Linked DNA regions of Homo sapiens. The protein of the gene in region 3 purifies or fractionates together with the protein of the main gene of each other region. This does not show direct contact. Each region holds a gene or a part of one and is shown on either strand. Other genes may lie near its edges. The genes, in order: CUL7, DBT, CECR2, CYLD, ZNF318, DNASE2B and PRRC2B.

What was found.
Region 1: the proteins of CECR2 (region 3) and CUL7 purify together in Homo sapiens (affinity purification with mass spectrometry, with the first as the bait; one large-scale study listed by BioGRID). This does not show direct contact.
Region 2: the proteins of CECR2 (region 3) and DBT purify together in Homo sapiens (affinity purification with mass spectrometry, with the first as the bait; one large-scale study listed by BioGRID). This does not show direct contact.
Region 4: the proteins of CECR2 (region 3) and CYLD purify together in Homo sapiens (affinity purification with mass spectrometry, with the first as the bait; one large-scale study listed by BioGRID). This does not show direct contact.
Region 5: the proteins of CECR2 (region 3) and ZNF318 purify together in Homo sapiens (affinity purification with mass spectrometry, with the first as the bait; one large-scale study listed by BioGRID). This does not show direct contact.
Region 6: the proteins of CECR2 (region 3) and DNASE2B purify together in Homo sapiens (affinity purification with mass spectrometry, with the first as the bait; one large-scale study listed by BioGRID). This does not show direct contact.
Region 7: the proteins of CECR2 (region 3) and PRRC2B purify together in Homo sapiens (affinity purification with mass spectrometry, with the first as the bait; one large-scale study listed by BioGRID). This does not show direct contact.

What each region holds. Positions count from the first base shown.
Region 1 is NC_000006.12:43,047,352-43,050,851, forward strand, and holds part of CUL7 (cullin-7), read right to left. Parts: intron 3,048-3,500; coding exon 2,909-3,047; intron 2,809-2,908; coding exon 2,612-2,808; coding exon of another isoform or gene 2,585-2,611; intron 2,312-2,584; coding exon 2,056-2,311; intron 1,219-2,055; coding exon 981-1,218; intron 903-980; coding exon 797-902; intron 639-796; exon of another isoform or gene 626-638; coding exon of another isoform or gene 596-625; intron 1-595. UniProt on the Homo sapiens protein: Core component of the 3M and Cul7-RING(FBXW8) complexes, which mediate the ubiquitination and subsequent proteasomal degradation of target proteins. Core component of the 3M complex, a complex required to regulate microtubule dynamics and genome integrity.
Region 2 is NC_000001.11:100,243,335-100,246,834, forward strand, and holds part of DBT (lipoamide acyltransferase component of branched-chain alpha-keto acid dehydrogenase complex, mitochondrial isoform 1 precursor), read right to left. Parts: intron 1,269-3,500; exon of another isoform or gene 1,209-1,268; intron 1-1,208. UniProt on the Homo sapiens protein: The branched-chain alpha-keto dehydrogenase complex catalyzes the overall conversion of alpha-keto acids to acyl-CoA and CO(2).
Region 3 is NC_000022.11:17,375,960-17,379,459, reverse strand, and holds part of CECR2 (chromatin remodeling regulator CECR2), read right to left. Parts: intron 1-3,500. UniProt on the Homo sapiens protein: Regulatory subunit of the ATP-dependent CERF-1 and CERF-5 ISWI chromatin remodeling complexes, which form ordered nucleosome arrays on chromatin and facilitate access to DNA during DNA-templated processes such as DNA replication, transcription, and repair.
Region 4 is NC_000016.10:50,748,586-50,752,085, reverse strand, and holds part of CYLD (ubiquitin carboxyl-terminal hydrolase CYLD), read right to left. Parts: intron 2,538-3,500; exon of another isoform or gene 2,511-2,537; 5' UTR 2,388-2,510; coding exon 1,884-2,387; intron 483-1,883; coding exon 180-482; intron 1-179. UniProt on the Homo sapiens protein: Deubiquitinase that specifically cleaves 'Lys-63'- and linear 'Met-1'-linked polyubiquitin chains and is involved in NF-kappa-B activation and TNF-alpha-induced necroptosis.
Region 5 is NC_000006.12:43,342,148-43,345,647, forward strand, and holds part of ZNF318 (zinc finger protein 318), read right to left. Parts: intron 733-3,500; coding exon 529-732; intron 65-528; coding exon 1-64.
Region 6 is NC_000001.11:84,408,484-84,411,983, reverse strand, and holds part of DNASE2B (deoxyribonuclease-2-beta isoform 1 precursor), read right to left. Parts: coding exon 3,466-3,500; intron 1,147-3,465; coding exon 985-1,146; exon of another isoform or gene 974-984; intron 1-973. UniProt on the Homo sapiens protein: Hydrolyzes DNA under acidic conditions. Does not require divalent cations for activity. Participates in the degradation of nuclear DNA during lens cell differentiation.
Region 7 is NC_000009.12:131,400,586-131,404,085, reverse strand, and holds part of PRRC2B (protein PRRC2B), read right to left. Parts: intron 1-3,500.

The DNA.
Region 1 (3,500 bases), on a different chromosome or scaffold from region 3:
GCTGATTATGTTGGCAAAAACGGCAGAGAGCATCCCTGGGTTCTTTCATCCAGGCCCTACTGTCCCAAAAACCAGTTGTAGGGCTGTGTTTTGAGATGTTCAGGCACAGACACCTGGATGGCTGGGAAGGGGCTGACAGGGACTGGGTTTGTGTGTGTATTATACCCAATGAGCCTGCCTTAGAAAGTAAATTCTAGGTAACAGCCAAAAATATAGCCACACTGCAAATACCTACTGTCACCATGACCCTAGTTCTCTGAGCCCTTCTGAAGCCTTCTGTGCCCAGGACTTCTCTGTAGCTCTTGCAGGGGACTCTGGTATGTGATGGGCGCTCTGCCTCCTTCATCCCCCTTTCTCCCACAGGCCCAGCCAAAAATGGAGCTATTGAAGCTCTTAATGTTTTATGTAATAATATCTCCATATCCTTTTGTGTAAAAAAGAGAGTGGCAAGATCACACATTTGGGTTTGCTTATATTTGCATAAGGGAACACGGGAAAGATACATAAATTAATACAAGTAGTTACCAGTAAGGGGTGTGTGGGGGACCCTGGGGGAACAGAGATTTGGGTGAGAGCAAGAATTCTCAGTGTATACCTTGTTAGAGCGTTTTGATTTGTGAACCATGTGAATGTATTACCTATTTAAAAAAAATAAAATTCAATTTTAAAAGCAAAACTCAAACCAAGAGCTCAAAGGCTCTATCACGCCCTCCAGAGCCTTGCCCAGCAGGTGTGCCTTGCCAGTGGCTGCCTTTATCCTCTCCCCCAGCCTCTCCCCAGAGCAGGGCAGGGGTACCTCTCGATCAGTGTTTGGGGACCGCAGGCAGGCCATGCAGGCATCCACGGCCTCGTGCCAGGGGAGCAGCAGTGCCTCGGGGAAGTCCACCAGCTGCTTCAGGATTCTGGGGGCAGAGAAATGTGTAGCCAGCCTCATGGACCCCCTTTGCCCTCAGAGATCCCACCTGTCACCATGCTCTCACCTCAGCACAGTCAGGTGCAGGGTCCTGTTAGTCTCCGGAGTGTCCAGGCTCTGCATCAGTGCCAGGAAGGGCTGCGGCTGCCGCTGCAGCTGCAGCAGGAGTGGCTTGACCTTGTTCTCCTGGGTCCCCTCTGAGCTGAGGGCTTGCTCTAGATCCAGGAGGATTTTCCCAGCTGGACCATAACCCTCCACCAGACGCTGCAGGGGAGTGTTGGGACTCTGAGATGGGGGTTCTTTTGCTACAGGAAGGGGACAGTCACAGGAGTTGGCCATTGTTAGTAATGTGAAGGCTCAGAAATAGATTCATAACTCTCAATCTTTTTCTCTAATTTCTCCTAAAAAATGTTTTAAATTTTTTAATCCCCCTAAAAGTTAGGTTTGGGGATCTAATCTCTGAATGTCATTGTAAGACAGCTTCATGACAAATTTTATATTCTTTTTTTTTTTTTTTCTTTGAGACGGAGTCTCGCTCTGTCACCCAGGCTGGAGTGCAGTGGCATGATCTCGGCTCACTGCAACCTCCGCCTCCTGGGTTCACGCCATTCTCCTGCCTCAGCCTCCAGTAGCTGGGACTACAGGTGCCCACCACCACGCCCGGCTAATTTTTTTTTTTTTGTAGTTTTAGTAGAGACGGGGTTTCACCATGTTAGGCAGGATGATCTCGATCTCCTGACCTCATGATCCACCTGCCTTGGCCTTCCAAAGTGCTGGGATTACAGGCGTGAGCCACCATGCCCGGCCTTTATATTCTTAAAATAGCAAAGTAGCTTCATCTGAAAACAGGAGAGCACTTCCCTTTATTTCAAAGCATGGAATATGTTTCTGTACAAGAGAAAAAGCTAAATGTGGGGGCTTTTTTAAGTCTTCAAAATTCTCTTGCAATTTTCTAACTTTACATCCTCCTTCATTCTTTGAGGGAACACAATGCCTGCTTCTCCGTTTGTTGCTTCTCTCTAAGTTGCAGCTTCTAAGGTGGCATCACTTCCAGAAAGGATTGCATAAAAATCAGCACAGACATCTCTCCTGTGCTACTGCCCTGAAGGTGTGTCAGCTCAGCTGCTGTGTCTGGCACCCACCTTCCACTTTGGCTGCATCTTCTGAGTCCTTAGCCTGGGCCTGCGCGTCTAGCAGGAGGACATCTTCTTGGGCTTCTAGAAGGGATGGGTAGGCTTGGTTCCCTGCTAGGGCTTCAGGCCCATACTTCTTGTAGACATGGCAGTTGATCAGGTCCCTGAGGGCACTGTCATTGAGTCGCTGTGGCAGAGTCAGCAGCAAGTCCTGGGCCAATTCTATGGGCACGGCCAGTTCAGCTAGGATCTCATCATCCAGAATCTGCCATCAAGGAGAAGCTCTCACTGCAGACAGCCCTGCCGACCCAGAGGCCCCAGGGAGCACTTGGTAGGGGTGGGGGTCTCTCTGCACACATACCCTCCATCCTGATCCTCTCACAGCTGGCAGCTGGCTCCTCCCAAACAGCTCACCCTCCCACCTCTGAAAATTCCAGACCCCTCCTCTGCAGCCCCTTCCACTCTCTGACCTCCACTTTTCATCCTGAGCCTTCCAAATGCTCTATACAGTCCAGCCCTTGCAATAGAGCCCTCCAACCTCTGAGTGTCTCCAGGCTGGCTCTACCTCCCCATCTAGGTTCTCCTGGAGGATCTGGAGAACCTCCTGATGGTCAGGTCCATCCAGCTTCTTGATGAAGAAGAGGAGTTCCCACCACTCAGCCAGGGTCAGGTGTTCACACTCCTCAGTGTCCTCATCCTCAGGCAGCACATAAGGCACAGCATAGAGTTCTGTCATGGGCCTCCAGCGCCAGGCAGGCAGGGCTGTGAAAATGGGCCAAGGGGCACAAGGATGTCACTAGCAACTCAGCAGGACCACCATTCCTCTGCTCAGAGCTGACCCTTGCTTCCTCCCTGAGCTCACCTCTACCCAGGACTCTACTGGCCACTGCCCCTTGGTACTCATCAGCCTCAACCATGTCCTCAATGTCTTCCTCAAAGCCCAAGATCTCCAGCATGTGCCAGTGCACCCAATAGGTGCGGCCTGTTGACTCCCAAAATACCTGGAGCATAGGGAAAGAAAGAGGGAAGGGGAAGGGAGGACTCACAAATGACTGGCTGTGGCCCAGTACTGAGGACTATAGCCCTCAGGGTGACCACCTGGCCAGGTTTTAGAAAAACCTCCACATAACAAAACAGCAGCATATGGAGAATACACACACACACACACACACACACACACACACACACACACACACACACACACACACAGGATGCCTTCTCCTTTGGGGGATGGGCCTGTCTCTCCTCTCACCCTGTCTTTCATGGCTTATGCCCCCACACTTCCTTCTGGCCTCCACCACTCCATCTCCCTGACCCTGACCTTTGGAGGAGTCTGGCTATATCAGTTTCTTCCCAGGTGTGAGTCTTCTTGACTTCACAGCCTCCTAAACCCAGATTTTCCCAGCTCTCAGAATGGCCCCCCTCTCAACTACTGACTCTTTTCACCATTCCAA
Region 2 (3,500 bases), on a different chromosome or scaffold from region 3:
GATGGAGTTTCACTCTGTCACCCAGGCTGGAGTGCAGTGGCACGATCTCAGCTTACTGCAACCTCCGCCTCCCAGGTTCATGCGATTCTCGTGCCTCAGCCTCCCAAGTAGCTGGGACTACAGGCATGTGCCATCATGTCCAGCTAAACTTTTTTTGTGTGTATTTTAGTAGAGACGGGGTTTCATTATGTTGCCCAGGGTGCTCTCGACCTCCTCAGCTCAGGCAATCCGCCCACCTTGGCCTCTCAAAGTACTAGGATTACAGGCCATGAGCCATGGTGCCCGGCCCAGACATCATCTTTACATTTACAATTTCCCTGTGGAACATACACGTTAGCCCTCTTCAACACACGGGAAACTGATGGGAAAGGTGAAGTAATTTGTCCAAGGTCACACAGCAAATAAGTGGAACAATCGAGCTCTGAAGCTAAATAAATTTGATGTCAAAGACCCTAGAAATAGGAGAAATAATCCCTAATTTCAAAGAGTTTACAACGTATGTGAGAAAATAAACACACATACAAACACACTCAAGCATGGACATGCATGCTCTAACTTTTTGTAATAAGAGGCATAGGCTTCTTTAATATAGTCCATAGGTTTACGAAAAAAAAAAAAAAGAGACATAGGCAGTACGTGATAAAGGAGTTTAAGCAGGCCGGGCACAGTGGTTCATAGCTGTAATCTCATTGCACTCCAGCCTAGGCAACAAGAGCAAAATTCTATCTCAAAAAAAAAAAAAAAAAAAAAGGAGTTTAAGTAGAGGGGTCTGGTGGGCTTTTTTTTCACGTTAGTGTGACCTGGGAAGGCTTCTTGGAGGAAGATTTAAGCTGCACTGTGCATAATAAGCATACATAATAAAAGAGCAGAAGGGCACTTTTAAGGCAGAGGAAACAGCATAAATAAACTACAGCAGAAATTGACTTAGCATATCTGCTGGGACATTGAGCGGCTTGATTTGGCTTGACCAAAGGTATAAAAGAGAGCAATGGAAACAGCTCAAGGAGGAAATGGTTGATGACTATAATGTCAGTATAAGGAGTTTGAACTCATACATTATGGGTTATTGAAGAAAAAGGATTAGGAAATTAGTAGTGGTTTATTGAATAGATTATAACAGATAAAATCTGGAGAGAAAGGGAGAAGTCAAGAAACTATTACATACCAAAATTATCAAAAAAGGATTTTTTTAAAAAAATAACTATTACCGTATTCCTCTCTTATCTCCTTATGTGCAGTGGACACGTTCAAGATCCCCCGGTGGGTGCCTAAAACCATGGACAGTACTGAATCCTACATATTCTACATATACCGTGTTTTTCCTATATATACATACCTATGATAAAGTTTAATTTATAAATCAGACACAGTAAGACAGTAATAATAATAACTGATAATAAAATAGAAAAATTATAATAATATACTGTAATAAAGGTTTTGTGAATGTGGTCTCTCTCTCAAAATATCTTACTGTACTGTGCTCACCTATTTTCAGACTACAGTAGATCATGGCTAACTGAGACCACAGATAAGAAGGGGAGAGTACTGTATAGTATTTGAGACACAAAGCAACAGGCTCCTGACTGAGGTAATTAATAGTAGAAAAAGAAAAAAAGCAACAAAAGTACCATAGGCAGTATATGATTAATATAATAGTAATTGAATGGCTCTGAGGAGAAGGCTAAAAACACTGTGAAGTTGCTGAATAGATGGATTAACAGGCAACAGGAAAGAGGAGAAGAAATAATTTTTCAAGCTAGAATTCTAAATTTTTTTTCTAGAAACAGACTATTAGACTAGTAAATTATATTTTTTAATTTTCTTCAAAGACAGGGTTGGCTGGGTGCAGTGGCTCACACCTGTAATCCCATCTCAAATAATAATAATAATAATAAAATAAAGACAGGGTCTCACTTTTTTGCCCAGGATGGTCTTAAACTCCTGGGCTGAAGCAATCCTCCTGTCTCAGTCTCCCAGAATGCTAGGATTACAGGTGTGAGCCACCACACCCAGCTAGACTAGTAAATTAAGCATAAGGCTTTAAACCTCCAATTTTAAAAAGGCATGCTTATGGAATTATCAGTTTTATATATTTTATATTTGAAGCAATTCTAAATTCATCTATGAACAATACTAAAGACACCTAGTTCTATGGGGACCATCTGTACCAATTTGCCTGAGGTGACACCCAATTCACCTCTAGTGATTCAAGGCAATTATTAATAACACCATTTTCATTCTCAAATACATCCTGGTTGAACAACTATACGTGTAGTCTAAGTCTTAATGCAATTATTTGACTAAAATAGGTCTTTCCTTGATTTTAAAAATAATTCAGCCAGGTGCAGTGACTCATGCCTGTAATCCCAACATTTTGGGAGTCCAAAGCAGAAGGATCACTGGAGCCCAGGAGTTCAAGACCATACTGGGCAATGCATTGAGACTTTGTCTACTAAAAATCAAAATAATTAGTTGGCTGTGGTGGTGAATGCCTGTAGTCCCAGCTACTTGGGAGGCTGAGGAAGGAGGACCACTTGAGCCCAGGAGGTCAAGACTGCAGTGAGCCAAGATCATGCCACCACACTCCAGCCTGGGCAACAGAGCAAGAACTTGTCTCAAAAATAATAATAAATAAAATAAAAAATTAGGCCAGGTGCAGTGGCTCATGCCTGTAATCCCAGCACTTTGGGAGACTGAGGCAGGTGGATCACGAGGTCAAGAGATCAAGACCATCCTGGCCAACACAGCGAAACCCCGTCTCTATTAAAAATACAAAAATTAGCTGGGCATGGTGGCGCGTGCCTGCCCAGTTACTTGGGAGGCTGAGGCAGGAGAATCGCTTGAACCCGGGAGGCGGAGGTTGCAGTGAGCTGAGATTGCACCACTGCACTCCAGCCTGGTGACAGAGTGAGACGCCGTCTCAAAAAAAATAAAAATAAAAAATTAATAATTCAATATCACAACCAGGACAGAAGAACATAAAGGGAAATGAAACTGTTCACCAAAGTAGCGTATTAAGGAAATATTTAATAATAATTCAATAGGCAGCTGTTGAGCACTCCTAAAGTCAGACATTGTACTGGACTTGGAAATGCAAAGCTAAATAAGATGCAATATATAGTTCCTGAATTCAAATTGCTTACACTTTACTACAGGAAGACAGACACAACAGAAAAATTCCAAATGGCATGATTAATCAAGAGTCAAATGCATTATGTCCTAGGGAAATGTAAAACACAACATTATAAGGCTATTTTAATAATTTACTACGGGGGTAAGAACTGTTTTTGCTTACAACTTTTTAGAAGAGTTTACAAACCTGACTTTTTTTTTTACTGAGTCATTTAAAAAATATTTATGCACACCTACAATGTGCCAGGCACTTGGGATTATACAGAGAACAAAACAGATGCAATTTCTTCCCTTATAGAATGCACAGTACAGTGAAAGGTAAAGACAAGTAAACCGGTGATTATAACACGTGCTATAATGAAGGAAAT
Region 3 (3,500 bases):
CTCCAGCCCCAGGCTGCAGCACAAACACCCCTCACCCCTCCTCCCTGCGGCACTAGGCAGCCAGGCCCTGCTTCAGGGAGGCCTTTTGTAGGGGAAGGCCTTTCTTTATCAGCCTCAGTTAGCTTCACAGTTCCCTCCCTACTAGCCCCAAACTCTCTTCTTTCCTTAAATGACGTTCTAGGAAAGAGAAAAAAATTAACAATGCCAGGCGCGGGGGGCTCAGGCCTGTAATCCCAGCACTTTGGGAGGCTGAGGTGGGCTGATCACTGGAGGTCAGGAGTTCGAAACCAGCCTGACCAAGATGGTGAAACCCTGTCTCTACTAAAAATACAAAAATTAGCCGGGTGTGGTGGCACACGCCTGTAATACCAGCTTCTTGAGAGGCTGAGGCAGGAGAATTGCTTGAACCTGGGAAGCAGACATTGCAGTGAGCCGAGATCGCACCACTGCACTCCAGCCTGGGTGGGCCACAAAAGCAAAACTCTGTCTCAAAGAAAGAAAAAAATTAACAAAACATCTGTTTCCCAGGTTTGTGACATGTACAATTGCTGATGACATTCACATCTGGGAGCAACTTTAACTTCCTTAAATTTCCATAAACAAAAATACTAAAGGTTTGCATTTAGGGGAAAAAATGCCCATCACAAGGAAAAACTCATCTATCTCACATAGGGTGTACCTTCTATACAATGACCAACACTGAAAAGTCATCTCTACCTCACACACTAAAGTAATGATTCTCAAAAGCAGGACAATTTCACCCCGCCGGACATATTTGGCAATGTCTGGAGACATTTATATTTGTCATGACTGGGGGTGCTATTGGCACCTGGAGCATAGAGGCCAACAATACTGCTAAACATCTTAAAACGAGGGCCAGGTGGGCCGGCTCACACCTGTAATCCCAACACTTTGGGAGGCCGAGGAGGGGGTCAGGAGATTGCGACCATCCTGGCTAACACGGTGAAACCCCGTCTCTACTAAAAATACAAAAAATTAGCCAGGCGTGGTGGTGGGCACCTGTAGTCCCAGCTACTCAGGAGGCTGAAGCAGGAGAATGGTGTGAACCCGGGAGGCAGAGGTTGCAGTGAGCCGAGATCGTGCCACTGCACTCCAGCCTGGACAACAGAGCAAAACTCCGTCTCCCAAAAACAAAAAAACAAAAAAACAAAAAAACAGCCCAGCGCGGTGGCTCACACCTGTAATCCCAGCACTTTGGGAGGCCAAGGCGGGCGGATCACAAGGTTAGGAGATCCAGACCATCCTGGCTAACACGGTGAAACCCCGTCTCTACTAAAAACACAAAAAATTAGCCGGGCGTGGTGGTGGGCACCTGTAGTCCCAGCTACTCAGGAGGCTGAGGCAGGAGAATGGCGTGAACCCGGGGGGCGGAGGTTGCAGTGAGCCAAGATAGCGCCACTGCACTCCAGCCTGGGCAACAGAGCAAGCCTCCGTCTCAAAAACAAAACAAAACAAAACAAAACGCATATAACATTCCTCATATAACAGCTTCCCACAACAGATTTTCAGATCAAACTATCAATAGTGCTGAGGCTGAGAAACCCAGAGGATTAAAGGAACACAATCTGGAGCTCACTCTTACTTTCCAATCATTCATTCCTTTCTCAATCCTAAGAGCTGCTGAAAAATGACTGTCCCCAAGTTTTCCAATATAAATTGACTGATATTTGTTAGAGGCTAATATAAAGATATAATAAAAGCATCCAAGGGATAGCATCCCATGAAATATGCAAATATGGAGGAAGGGTAGCAGCCATCTGAAAAGGTTATAATAGCAAATGAAAGGCAAACCACAAGCCAGAAGCTGTAAGTGGATCTTATTCAGAGTTCTAGCTATTGATGACATGAGATATAAGAAACAGACTAAGTGAAAGGAAGCCAAAGGCAGTGGCATGTGCCTGGAGTCCCAGCTACTGGGGAGGCTGAGGCAGGAGGATCACTTGAGCTCAGGGGTTCAAATCCAGCCTGGGTAACATAGTGAGATACTGTCTTTAAAAAAAAAAAAAAATGAAGTAAGAATCACATAATTCAATGCCTTCAGCCTCCAGAATTCCTCAAAATCTCAAAGCACAAAATCTTAGGTCACTTTAAGAACACTAGAGATAGTGAACATGTCAATCTTCAAGTCTCAAAAGCTACTTTCAAAGTAGCTTATTTGCAGACAAGATGCCAGAGAAAGAGAAAGAAAAAATTCCTATAATTTGCAAACACACCAAGTATGGATTTGCAGTTTTCACTTGGTACGTAATTAATTTGTAAGATGTGGATCCTAACCTTGACCCTAACTGGTGAGTCAGCAATTTTCTAGATTAGTTAAGAGTGTTATGCATGCTGAGAAACATTTCTAGAATCACAGAACTTTAGACATAGGAACACCTAGGAATCACTGAGTCTATAGATGGGGCACCTGAAACCCACAGTCATCTGCCTAAGAACACAACTTAAAGACAGGTGGGCCCACAATCCAGCTTTCTGATTGCTGCCTTTTGAAAATGTGTTTAGGGGCTGGGAGCGGTGGCTCATGCCTTTAATCCCAGTACTTTGGGAGGCCGAGGAGGGTGGATCACGAGGTCAGGAGTTTGAGACCAGCCTGGCCAACACAGCGAAACCCCATCTCTCCTAAAAATACAAAAATTAGCCAGGCAGATGGCACATGTCTGAAATCCCAGCTACTCGGGAGGCTGAGGCAGGAGAATCACCTGAACCCAGGAGGCAGAGGTTGCAGTGAGCTGAGATCACGCCACTGCACTCCAGCCTGGGCGACAAAGCAAGACTCCATCTCAAAAAAAAAAAACAAAAAAAAAGAAAATGTGTTTAGTCACATCAACTACATCTAAGACCATGTACTTAGAAGCTCCCCTTTGGCTCTGTCCACACACCACATTTTTACCTAAACCACCTTTGCACTGCAGTTTTCCGCACTCTGCCAAGCGCACTGCATTGTGCGAGCCCCAGCACACCATGGAATCCCACACTGAGCTCCCTTGATCAAAGGGGCAGATGATCGGTAGTACTGAATGCTGCCAAGGTGTATTTTAGGCTTTCCTAAGTGTATTCCAGAACATTAAGCAACTTAACTTCCGTTGCAAAGCGAGCCATGTGCTAACGCAGGCCGCCCTTCAGAGATGAGAAGGCGCTGCCCCTTCTAAACTGCAGAAGATCCCAACTGTGAAGCCTTTGAAGCTTCACATGGTGGGCACACACACACACACCAAAGCAGCAAGCCTTTCCTTTCAAAGCGTGGGTATAAATAGAAAGGGGACCTGGTATTCACTTTTAAAGAGTTACATTATGATAGCACATTCTCCCCTTTCAGGATCTTAGCCTGCACAGATCTGTCCTTCTGTAATTCACATCCTGTTCTTTGGCTTTCCTCCTTGGTGAGGGTGCAGATCCTGAATCTTTAGAAGGCATTTTATCCTCTAGTATGTTACATTAAATAGATTAGTGTGACAAAGGACTATTTTTTTTTTTTTTTA
Region 4 (3,500 bases), on a different chromosome or scaffold from region 3:
AATATTCAAAGTGTTCAATTTGCAAGTAAATTGGTCCTAAAACTAATACATATATATATAAACTATACATATATATGTGTGTATATATATGTGTGTATATATATGTTTATATATATATATACATATATATATAAACTAATATATATATCACAAAGATATTTAATCCAAAATTTTCTTACCATGTCCACACCAACAAAATATCCTAAGCTTTCTTTTCCTGGCAAAACATCACAGAATATAACTGTTCCAGATTCTATTGTTTCTCCAACCTTCAAAGAAACTCTGGAGTTTATTTCCAAAGGAGGAAGTTCGACCTGCATTGTGTCCCCAGGACCTGCGTAATCACTTTCCAATGCAGTGTCATCATCTTCTATGAGTTCTAGCTTGTCCAATGCAACAAACACGCCACAATCTTCATCACACTGAAAAAGCTGTTTCCCTTGGTACACCCCGTCAGTGAAACCTTGACCACGACCTTCTTCCTAGTTTTTAAGAGAGAAGGGAAAGAAATAGATATAGAAAGACGATCCATAGGAAAAGGGGTTCACTCTAGGGATTTCAGGAAAATCACTCTGGAAAATTTCTAAATGATACATATAATAAGAAATACAATTATTAGCAGTTTCTGTTGGATTTAGAGTGTTTTAAAAAATAAGAAGTTGTATCTGATGCTGAAATAATATTATCTGATAATTTCAATTCATAACTCTATCATGAGAAAGCTAGGCTGAATTCCACGTTGTGATTCTAACATTAATTTGGTTATAAAAAGAAAATGTTACTTTAAAATAGCAGTAATGTTAGCTCCATTCATTAAGCACTTATTGTCAGTCACTGTGCTTAAATCCTGCATCAATGTACCACAAAAACACTACAAGTCATGTACTATTAACACCATTGTACAGGTAAGGATGCAGAATGAGAGAAGTTAAGTAGCTTTGTTAAGTAACCTGGCAACCCAGCTAGTAAATGGCTTAACTGGGATTCAAATTCCTAATTGTTTACAATCACTGCTTTTAAAAAAAATTAAATCAAGAAGCAAAGAAGACATGCAATTCTATTGGCAAGAGTGTCAAAATGTAATTGGCATTTCAGTTCTTGTGAATGAATATTAAGTTTGGAAACATATCACAGCATTCTTGGGTCTCCTTCCGGTAGAAATAAATTCTAAGGATTTTCACATATATTATCGGGGACAATTATAAGCAAGTTTAAATTTCTGCAACTTTTTTTTCAAAAATCTTATATCTAAATTGTTATTTAATAACATACATTAAGAAGAACTAAGAAACCTATAGATGATAACGCAAGGTAATTAACAATTTTTTATGTAACTATTTACAACTGGTAGCGTTCATGTTTAATACAGGCAATGTTAAAATTTCTAAAATATATATGTCTGCAATAGCCAGGTGAATCTCTTTGTATGTTCCTACCATAGTACATAGTTTTTTAAGTTTCGACATCATCTTTACATCTTCGCAATTCATCATTAAAAAGTAAACAAAAGAAATTAAATCAAGAAGCAAAGAAGGCATACAATTCTATTTGCAAGAATGTCAAAATATAATTGACATTTAAGTTCTCAAGAATGAATATTAAGCTTGGAAACATATCACAGAGTTCTTGGGTCTCTTTCCAACAGAAATAAACGCCAAGGTGATTTTCACACATATTATCAGTGACAACTATAAGCAAGTTTTGGATTATGGATTCAACCACAACATGGATTCATCAGCAAGGATGATGAATATTAAAAATTACAGAAGACTCTTGGGAAAATTTATTTCGTATTTAAGGAGAAAAATATGTATGTGCATACAAATACACAGACACACATGAACACAAACAAACACACTACTAAAATGGTTTATCAAACTTACCAGCAATTCAACTCCAAAGAATATTCCGGAGACTGTCCTCTCTGCTAACAGGGGTCCTCTGAAGCGTACAACTCCAGGAAATTTTTCTTCCCCAGATCTCAGCTGTACTTTCACAGGACAGCCCACGTCTATTTGGAGGCCTTTACTTAGTCTGTTTCTGTTTTTAAACAGGCTGAACCTCTCCTCACAATTGGTAATTGCCAAAAGTAACTCTGTGAACTTTTCATTTATCTCTACAACATCCTTTTCATCAACAAAGAGAACTGCATGAGGTTGCTCTAGAATTTTTAATCCAATCTGATTTTTCTTGCCTTTTGCAGAAGGAATCCTTGAATGCCCCACAGAACGATCTTGAATATACTGTCCTATACTTCCCTTCGGTACTTTAAGGAGCTTTTGTGTTTGTTTGTCTGTAACGCTGCATTCTTGAAGAAGCAAGTAAAAAATCCGCTCTTCCCAGTAGGGTGAAGTGACTTTTTCTTGGCTCCATAAGCCTGAACTCATTGTGATATTAACTTCAAAATACTAATTCAAAAAAGGGAAACTACTAATAACTTTGTCATAAAACCGCAAAAGATAAATTCAGTGGCAGTCCCAAAGCATGTTTTCAGCAACGTGGTGTCCATGCTGTAAAAAGAAAGGAAATCAAAATGCCTAGTGAAAAAGCAAAAATAAACTTTAGACTTCATTCTACATGACTGAAAATTAAGACTGAAGACTTTTAAAATTTTCATTTGACCAGTAAACACATACACACAAATGAAATATTTTCAAAAAATATCTAAAAGGGCTAAAAGACATACATACTGTATTACTTTTATCTACTGTAACTGTGCATATTTAATTAATGAAATCCAATTGTAAAGTACTTTCAAAGACAACACAATGTTTGCTTCCAAGACACTGAAATTTATAAAATCAGATTCTAGTAAAAACTTTTAAAGATTACCCTTATATACATATTCTAACTTTTTTTAATTTATTTTTATTTATTTGTTTTGAGACAGGGTCTCACTCTTGTTGCCCATGCTGGACTGCAGTGGCACAATCACAGTTCACTGTGGCCAAGACCTTCCAGGCTCAAGTGATCCTCCTACCTCAGCCTCCCGAGTAACTGGTATTATAGACGCATATCACCACACACAGCTAAGCTTTCTATTTTTTGTAGAGACAGGGTCTCACTATGTTGCCTAAGCTGGTCTTGAACTCCTGGGCTCAAACAATCCTCCTGTCTTGGCCTCCCAACGCACTGGGATTACAGTCGTAAGCCACCAGGCCTGTCCCATATTCTGACACTAATAAACTTTTAAAAGTAGCGTTTCGGGCTGAGCTGTGTGGCTCATGCCTATAAATGATAGCTATGATATGGCCATATTGTGATAATGGAACATTTTACCTCTGACTCAACTTCATTTCATATATTTTTTCTGAAGATGGGCAATGTTCATCACATTAATCATAGTTATCTGATTTCTCAAATCGCAAATATCAGATATTATAATATGACTATATTAAAAATATTTTAAAAATCAATTTTGTAGCATCAAAACTTGTACTACATAGCAAGGGAATATCATGATATAACTGCATTATAATTTCTTTCTATTATTTCTTTTT
Region 5 (3,500 bases), on a different chromosome or scaffold from region 3:
TGGCATCTTGCTTGGCCTCACTCTGGGTCTTTGAAGCCCAAGGTCTGTTGTAGGGATCCAGTGTCTATTTGTAAGAGGCAGAGGTGCTCACACAACAGCACTAAAAGCTCAATGACCCACTTTTCTCTTTTTTTTCCCCCATAATAAGACCAGGGGACCAGAAGCCCCCAGCTACCCACCCCCACCCCCTCTGCCAACTGTTTTAATGGAAATCACCTGTGGAAAAGGTAAACACATGTTAGAGCAAGTACCAGAAAAAGGTAAAATGAAACAAAAAAATCAGGTACTCAAGGAATCAAAAGAGGCAGAAACCTCACTTACACTTGTCATGGTGTTTAGTTACAGCCAAGTCCCCTGGACTGAGCCCTGGGGATGGTGTCTCCTTTGTTGGTGTCTCTTGGCTCTTCAGACTGGGGCTCCTGCCCATATGAGAATGTTTCCTTTTCCAGCTTTGCAATGCAGATAGGGGTATAGAAGTTTGAAGAGAGTGAGGGTGGGAGTGAAAATAACAGAGAGTAGGATACCAACCTGTGTGTGCTTCTTATTGTGCATATGAGTGAAGAAATCAAACATGGTCCCACAGATGGTGTTGCAGTCTTTGCACCAGTGATTGCCAGCATCATAATACTCATAAGCAGCAGTGGGCTGATCCAACTGCTTAGTGGCTGACTGGGGGCTTTCGGCAGGCTTGGGGCTCTTAGTACGAAACTTCTCATTGTTTACTTTTGATTCCTAGAGGGGAAAAATCTGTACTTACAAGGAATTCAAGGCAATCTAGACTTGTCTTCTGTTAGAAATAGTAAGTGGCCATAATAATAGAAATAGGGCCATATGACCATATTTCCAATGTTTAAAGCTGCACAAGTTGGGGGGAACCCTAACAGAAACATGTCTCTAAGACATAGAACTATTTGACTTCATAGTGCTATCACAGCATAAAAAGTAAATCATAATGGCAATATATTTACTTACATATCCTAAAATATCTCTAGAAGAACAGCCAAGGTTGTGGAAACATTGGCTGCCTCTGGGGAAGGGAAGTGGAGAACAAGGATGGGTAGGAGTCTCTTCACTGTATACCCTTTAGTAAATGTTGAATATGTTACCTATGCAACTAAACAGTTAAATTTGAAAATCATGACAGCTAGGGAGGGAAGAAAAACCAATATGGAAAAGGTAATTGACAGGCTAAGCAAAGCAAATGCAGAAAATAGGTGATAGTGAACTCATCACATGCATCCTGGTATGAAAAACTGGAGAGAAGGGTTGGTGTACATAGATAAAGTAGACTATACAACTACACATAGATAAAGTCATCTATGTAGAATGATTTAAAGGAATCTAGGAAAAACATTCCTAACTGCCTAAAATATCACTTTTAGAATTTAACAACTTTAGAGGCCAGGTGCAGTGGCTCACACCTGTAATCCCATCACTTTGGGAGGTCGAGGTGGGCAGATCACTTGAGGCCAGGAGTTCGAGACAGGCCTGGCCAACATGGTGAAACCCCATCTCTACTAAAAATACAAAAATTACCCGGGCATGGTGGTGTGCACCTGTATTCCCAGCTACTCGGGAGGTTGAGGCACGAGAATCACTTGAACCCAGGAGGCGGAGGTTGCAGTAAGATAAGATTGTGCCACTGCACTCCAGCCTCAGCAACAAGTGAGACCCTGTCTCAAAAAAAAAAAAAAAAAAAAAAAAATTTTAACACCGTTAACATGTATCCTTTTTAAAAATATATCAACTTCTTAATATTAAAGTTATCAACAGCAAATACTTTAATATGAATTAATTTATTACCAAGCTGGAACAAGGCACTCAGGAAATGAGAATTTTGGTTAATGTTCAGGAGTAAGGCACAGGAAAAAAAGATAATTTTTGCAACTCAGAGGCTCACTATGAATGGGGTTCTATAGTACACAAGATGAAGAGCTGGGTACCTGGAATATTGGCTCACGCAGGGAAAAAGGTAGGATACAGAAAGGGAAACAATTGGGGCTTCAAAGATACTCTTTCCCTACCTGAGTCCTATTCAAGAATCACTAAAGAAATCACACCAGACAGGCAGGGGATGGGAGAGTTCATACACTCCTGGTGGGAGTATTAACTGGCACCATCTTCTAGAAGATAATCTAGGAATACATTACATACCTCAAAATACTGTATACCCTTTAACCCAGCAATTCACTCCTTGACATTTATCCTATGGAAATTATCATGTCAAACAACAGGTGATTTGATTGGTTAAATAAATTTTGCTTAACCATGCAACCAAAACAACAAAAAATAAGGTTGTTAAAAATGGTATTATAGAAGTGTATTTACTGACATGGAAAGATGTTCATGATATACTGAGAAAACTAATAAAATACACTTGAATAATCAACAAAGATATGTAAATCGGCATACAGCGTTGAATATCACTTTATCCAAAATACTTTCTCTAACCACTCTATACTCCTTATCCTGTTTTCTTTTTTTAGGCACTTCTCATTACCTAACATGGACTTATTTATTTATCATCTTCTGCTATTTAATGAGAATATGAACCTTGTCTATACTGTTCAGTGTGATACTTCCCATATCTAGACCAGTTCCTGACACTTTATTGGTGACCAATACATATTTGTTAAGTGAATTGATGGACAGAATTAATACTTTGGTGTATGTATTTGGAATAACATACACCAAGGTATTAATAATAAATTAATGTATTTGGAATATATAATAATACCTTGGTGTATGTATTTGGAATAACATACACCAAGGTATTAATAATATTATACACCAAGGTATTAATAACAGTGGTCTCGGCTGGGCCCAGTGGCTCATGCCTGTAATGCCAGCACTTTGGGAGGCTGAGGTGGGCAGATTACTTGAGCTTAGGAGTTCGGGACCAGCCTTGGAAACATGGCGAAACCTCAACTCTACAAAAATACAAAAATTAGCCAAGTGTGGTGGTGGTGAGCACCTGTAGTCCCAGCTACTGGGGAGCCTGAAGTGGGAGGAATGCTTGGACCTGAGAGTTGGAGGCTGCAGTGAGCCATGACTGTGTCACTGCACTCAACTTAGGTGACAGAGTGAGACCCTGTCTCAAAAAAAAAAAAAAAAAGTAATAATAACAGTTGTCTCTAGGTAGATGAAATTACAAGTTTGTATGTGCTTTTCTGAAATGAACAGAAAGGGAAAGAAAATCTCAAACCAACTATACATTTTAAAGAGAGGTAAAGAAAGAAGAAATACCAAGGACAGGTAGGAAAGAAAGGCTGTGGACATAATATTCCTTACTGCTGAGATGAAAACTGAATTGTAACATATCCGTTAGTTTCAGAGACCATGAAGACGCACCCAAATCAAGATGACAGATTATCATTGGGTTCGTACATGAATAGAAATCCAATGTATAAGTCAATTACAAAGGACCAGAGCTTTTAAATTCTTCTCCCATCAAAGGCCCTACCTAGACTGAAGACCCAGGTATAAAAGACTAGGCCTAC
Region 6 (3,500 bases), on a different chromosome or scaffold from region 3:
CCCAGGTAATTTGGCCTTGGAGACCATATATTTTTTCTTCTAAATGTACATATACATATACAAAAGTTGAGAACTCCATGTACCAAAAAGCTTTAAGAATCATCATCTCCTCAGTGTGCATGCCTAATCTCTGTGATATTCGGCATCATTACATGATTTCAACTAGTGAGACTAGAGCTTGACTTGGGTGAGGAGCTCAGTGATCCTTGCCATAAGATGGAAATTTGATGAGAAACATTTTCTAAATCTCCTGTTTCTATAGGCAAGTTGCTTTTCACTACTATTTAGCTACCAACCTGTCCCTACTTCTCCTTTCCCACCACAGTTTGCCAAATCTAAGAATTTTTCGCTGAGCTTGAAATCTTAAAAGGAGATTATCTGGCTCAGAGGTGTCATGTTTGTGGCCTACAAGGAACATGTGGCCTGGAAAACTTCAAAAACAAAATTAAGATTGAACTCATATTTGGAAATCAGTTTCTCTCTCTCTCTCTCTCTCTCTGACACACACACACACACACACACACACACACACACACACACACACACACACACACACACCCTAGGTTTCTGGTACTTCATGAGAAATAAGGAGATCTGTAATCATTAGGCTTGTATTCCTGTAGAGCCACAGTATGATGGAACTGAGGCTTTAAGGGAAGCTAGGTGAGTCAACACCCCAGTTCATCACTATCCTCACTTCCCATGTAACATGTCTGTTTCACTCATATATGTTATCTACCAGGCCCCTGAATACATTTGAAACTACTGCCCTGATCAAGTTCAACAACTGCACTGGTAGATTAAGAGCCAAAGCCCAGTAAGCGAGCCTGCCCAAGACCTCACCATGGCAAAGCCAGTATTAGAATCTAGGTATCAGAGGGTCTATGAATAGATTAACAAATGAAGTGACACATTTATGAATATATTTCCAAATCATTTCTTCAACATAGTTATCGTTTTTTTTCTCACATACTTTAGTTTTACCTATTGCCTCATACTGGTTGTACTTGAAAGTTATGCAGATGCCACTTTGTCCATTTCGTCTCCCTGTGGGTGGATAATCATAGCCTTCTTCCGGAATTGGAGGAAACTGAGGGATGGAATGAATCAGCCAGAACCCTTGAACTCTGTTCCACAGCAGTAAACCTACCAAAGACACATTTAACAAAGATAAATCAGAAAAACAAAGCTTCTTTTATAATAGGGTTCACAGTGGCAACATTTAAGCCCATTTATGCTTCAGACTAGTGTTTTATTAGGCTAATAATCACAAGGATCATGCTTATTTTTCAAAGATTTCAAATACAATTCTGGCACATATCACATTGCCTGATTACTGATAAAAAGCCACCACGAAAAGGGAACCAAGGTAGCCATCCTGTGAAGAGTTAAGAGGAATTTCATTTTGAAATCACAAGGAAAATTTGTTTTGGCAGAATGCAAATTTGCTAAATTGGAATTGGACCTTGTTAAACTATACAGTCACCTAGCAAGATTTAGATAGTGTCTTCACTGCTAAGCAGCTAGGCTCTTTTCAAAAGCTGACTAAAAAACAGAGTTGAAAGAGAAAATATCAAATGAAGAAATGTACTCACAATAATTTGTTATAAAAAACTGCTGCCCATTTATTGGCAGAAGAGTCACTATTTCTACAAGCCCAATAAAAGAAGCAAAGAGACAAAAAGGAAGCTGTGCTAAAGCATCCTAGTTAATTACGTTTGTAAAAATCTCTAGAGCAAAATAAACAACTTGAAAGCCAATAAGGAAGAAAATAGAAAGATTTTTATCATTTTGTGACATACCAAAAAGAACTTTGTAAAACAGACATCTGACTATTTTTGTGTTTAGAAATTTATCATGGTAGGTTTGGTATGATAGCTAGACTTTCCAGTTTGCATATGACTATGCAAACATAAGATTCACTCGTGTTTGCCTAAGTGTTAGATTAAAAACCAAATGCCTTCTAGTTATTTTTTTTTCAAAGTGCCTATTTTAAGAAAGCATACTGTTGTTCTTTGGGTGGAAATAGAATCAATACCTGTGTCAAGGTGGAAAATATTGAAAGTTCTGTGTGTAACAGAACTGGATAACCTTCAAGAGTTATCCTCTGTGCAGATGAGTGTGCCAATTTGCTGGAATCCTATCCTCCTGGTACAAATGCCATAGGATATTAGGGCATCTGTTGGCCAAGAGAACCCCTCCACTTGATATTGTGCCCTACTTCTTTAGAGCCATTTCCCCAAAGCCTTGTGGCAGTTAGCAGGGTAGAGCAGGAATAGTGTGGGAGATTGTTGGAGGAGAGGTTGAAGAATGTAGCATGTTATGAAAATTGTTGGGTTCCCAGTAAATAGGGTATTCAGGAGAGCAACTTTGCTAAATAAAAAGCTTTCAAAGTTCATGACCTTTGTCAGCCATTACAAACTATATTCTAAATCAGAGGCTGCAAACTGACATCCTCTGAGCCAAATCCAGCCTGTGGATACATTTTATTGCGCTTGCAGAGTATTTTTTAAACTTTGAATTTAGTGCCAACATTTAAAAACTGGGGAGTTTTTCCACAAATATTAATTTTCAACATCTCCTGGAAAATTGTGTCCGTATCAGGCAAGTTGAATAGTAACTGCCTCCTTTCACTTGCTGACATCATTTGCCTGCTCCCTTGAAGGCATTTGAATTTGGAATCTTCTGAATACTTGTTGCCATGGAAAGTTATTTATGATATATGAAATTGAAAAAAGGTTGAAAAATAGTCATTACAGTAGTTTTGTAAAAATGTTTTAAAATATGTATTTTAGAAAAAGTAGAAAGGATTAAATATGGTTTATCTAATGGGCATTAGGATTATAGATTTTTTTGTTTACCTGTATTTTGAATTTTTCTGTAGTTCACAAACACATATGCAAAGTTTAGAAATAAAAAAATTGTGAAAGGATAATAAAAATTATATGTGATAATGTAAATAACATGATAAAAATTAATATAAAAAGCTATTTAAAATACTTTTTCAAAAATGTATATTTCCAAGGGAACTGTATGTTAAGAAGAGCTCGTTTTACTCTCTATAAATCATACTTCAATAAATCTGACTAAAATGTGTTTGTACATATATACTACATGCACATATACATATATACATATTCATGTGCATATATATATATATATATATAAAATTGCTGGTGTGTGTGTGTGTCCTCAGTATCAGTACCTGGATTCCTGCTGCTGCAAAGCAAATATTTTAAAATATGTTAAGAAATAAAATGGGATTTCTAAAAATGAGATTGCCAAGTCAAATCATATAATTATATTATAACCAGTGATATAGAAGTCATACATTTCAATAACTCAAATAAACTATTAAGAAGAAAGGCTATCTATTTAGTATGGAATATAAGGATACTCAAGATGAAATATTTAAGAAATTGTTGATTTCCAGTAGGAAAGAGAAACCAAGAATCTTTGTCATACCTTTGGTGTGTCCATACTTTCTGCTGTAATTCACA
Region 7 (3,500 bases), on a different chromosome or scaffold from region 3:
AAAATGGCTGGGTGTGGTGGCTTACACCTGTAATCCTAGCACTTTCAGAGGCCAAGATGGGAAGACAGCTTGAGGCCAGGAGTTCAAGACAAGCTTGGTCAACATAGCGAGACCCACCCCCACATCCCTAAGGAAGAAAAAAAAAGTATTACTGAAAATAAAAATAAGAGAAGTTACGCTTAAAAATACGTATGGAAAAATACTGTGATATTTTGAAAATGCCAAGTTGCAATACAATATAGTATATCCCATTTTTGTTTTTTAAAAAACCTCCCTACATGAGGCCATATTTATACGTGCACTGAGCCTAGAAGGATAAACAAAGCAAATTTATCAATAATGGTTACTGCCTGGGACATTGGGGAAAAGCTTTCATTTCTCTTCAAACACTTGGCTTTTAATTTTGTTTTTTTTTTTTTTTTTAAAGTATGGGCCAGGCGCAGTGGCTCACGCCTGTAATTCTAGCATTTTGGGAGGCTGAGGTGGACAGATGGCCTGAGCTCAGGAGTTTGCGACCAGCCTGGGCAACAAGGCGAAACCCCATCTCTACTAAAATACAAAAAAAAATTAGCCAGGCGTGGCGGGATGCACCTGTACTCCCAGCTACTCAAGAGGCTGAGGCAGGGGAATTGCTTGAACCTGGGAGGTGGAGGTTGCAGTGAGCCGAGATCATGCCACTGCACTCCGGCCTGGGCAACAGAGCAAGACTCCACCTCAAAAAAAAATAAATAAATAAATAAAATAACCTGTATACTTCTGCAATTAACATTTTACCAAAAACAAACAAACAAACAAAAAACCAGAAAATACCACATTATGATTCAGGACACTATCCTCTTCCCAAGGACTTCTGAACACTTGGCCCATTCAGTCCACCGACAGGTCGGTTGGGCAGGCAGGCAGGAGTGATGATGCCCCTCCCAGACAGGCCTGTGCTTTCTGCCCTGGCCTGGAACACAGCTGTTCTTTAAGCTCTGAACCATATGTAAACAACACCTGCCGAAAAAAGTTCTGCAAGACACAAAGGACCCATGGAAAGAGTCCTGGAGATGACCTCCTTTTTCCAGTAGGTCCTGCAGCGATCCATCCCATGGTTCTATACAAAGAGATGATCCTGAAGCGTGTCGGGAAGTTGACGCCGGCTTCCCGGAGGCACAGTCATTCTCTGCCCTCCTCCCTGCTGGCCACTGGCCATACAAGAATGCTTGCATAATGTTCACCATTCAAAGGGCCTCGGCACTCTCTGGAAAGCAGGCTGACCCACAAGTTCTCTTCTGGGACCCATACATTTCTGATTTCCACATAGGAACACATTTTTAATGTTCCAGGGCTCAGCACACTATTTTCAATAGGTGCTTATTTCGAGTCAGCTACATTTTCCAGAATGCCTTCCCTGACTGCCCCACACCCAGACTGAGGTGAGCTTGGTTTCTGCGTGGGCTCCTATAAGACCCCCTTCTCAGACACCTGGCACACAGTGATGAATGGGAAACAACAGAATTCTGCTTCCGGATGCATTTACTCACTCCACTGGGGGAAAGGACCATTCAATACATGAAAACAAAACTATCTACAGGCTGCTGCCCGTCGCTGAATGAATAAATAAAATGTGGTAGATACATGCAAATAAGAGAATATTATTCTGCCTTAAGAATGAAGTTAGTTCTGACACATGCTGCAACATGGATGAACCTTGGAAATACTATGCTAAAAATAAGCCAGACACAAAATGACAAATACTGGATGATCTCACTTACATGAGGTACTTAAGAGTATTCGGTTTCACAGAAAGAAAGTAAAATGGTTGGCAGGGCAAGGTGGCTCAACATTGCCACCATGGGATTACACATGGCTGTAATTCCAGCACTCTGGGAAGCCGAGGCAGGCAAATCGCTTGAGCTCAGGAGTTCGAGACCAGCCTGGCCAACATGGCGAAACTCCGTTTCTCCTAAAAATACAAAAATTAGCCAGACCTGTAATCCCAGCTATTCAGGAGGCTGAGGCAGGAGAATCGCTTGAACCCGGGAGGTAGAGGTGCAGTGAGCCGAGATCGTGCCATTGCACTCCAGCCTGGGAGACATAACGAGACTCTGTCTCAAAAATAATAACAATAATACAAAAATTAGACCAAGCACAGTGGCTCACGCCTGTAATCCCAGCACTTTGGGAAGTCGAGGTGGGCAGATCACCTGAAGTCAGGGGTTCGAGACCAGCCTGGCCAACATGGTGAAACCCCGTCTCCACTAAAAATACAAAAATTAGCTGGGCATGGTGGCAGGCGCTTGTAATCCCAGCTACTCGGGAGGCTGAGGCAGGAGAATCTCTTAAACCCAGGAAGCAGAGGCTGCAGTGAGCCGAGATCGCGCCATTGCACTCCAGCCTGGGCAACATCAAAACTCTGTCTCAATAAAATAAAATAAAATATACAAAAACTAGGCCAGGCACGGTGGCTCATGCCGGTAATCCCAGCACTTTGGGAGGCTGAGGTAAGCAAACCACTTAAGGCCAGGAGTTCGACACCAGACTAGCCAACATGGTGAAACCCCGTCTCTACAAAAAAATACAAAAATTAGCTGGGTGTGGTGGCGTGTGCCTGTAATCCCAGCTACACAAGAGGCTGAGGTTGCAGTGAGCCAAGATCGTGCCACTGCACTCCAGCCTGGGCGACAGTGAGACCCTATCTCAAAAAAAAAAAAAAAAGGAGAAAGAATGGTAAGAATGGTGGCCGCCGCCACTGGATGGGGGAGGGGAGTTGGCATCTAATGGGAACAGAGTTTCAGTTTGGGAAGATGAGAACGTTCTGGAGATGGATGGTGGTGATGGTTGCACAACACTGTGAAAGTGCTTCACGCCACTCAACTGTACACTTAAAAATGGTAAATTTTATGTTATGTATACTTCACCACAATTTTTAAAATTCAAATAAAGAAAAAAACACCTATTTACAAGTTGTGAAAACTGCTATAAAGAGAAACTGTAGGGGGCTCCGAAGAAATCACAGGAGGCTGAGGCAGGAGAATCGCTTGAACCCGAGAGGTAGAGGTTGCAGTGAGCCAAGATCGCGCCATTGCTCTCCAGCCTAGGCAACAAGAGCAAAACTCCGTCTCAAAAAAAAAAAAAAAGAAAGAAAGAAACCACAAGAGGATGAGGCCAAAGTTAGGTGGGGGGCTCTCCAGGGCCTCCTCCCCACCAGACCAGGATCTCCCCAGGAGTCAATGGGGCATCCATGTCCCTAGAAACAAAAACTGTTTAAGACAAAAGGCTTCTCCAGGTTCAAACCAGTAAATGGAGTAAGACCTCAAGCCCCACTCATCAAAGGGCTTAACCAGGACTGAGACCCCCCAGAACCTAGTGGCTCATGAAAGAGGCTGCCTTGCTGGGTGCCGTGGCTCATGCCTGTAATCCCAGCACTTTGATAGGCGGAGGCGGAGGGATCACTTGAGTCCAGGAGTCTGAAACAGCCTGGGTGTCCAGGCACGGTGGCTCACACCTGTCATCCC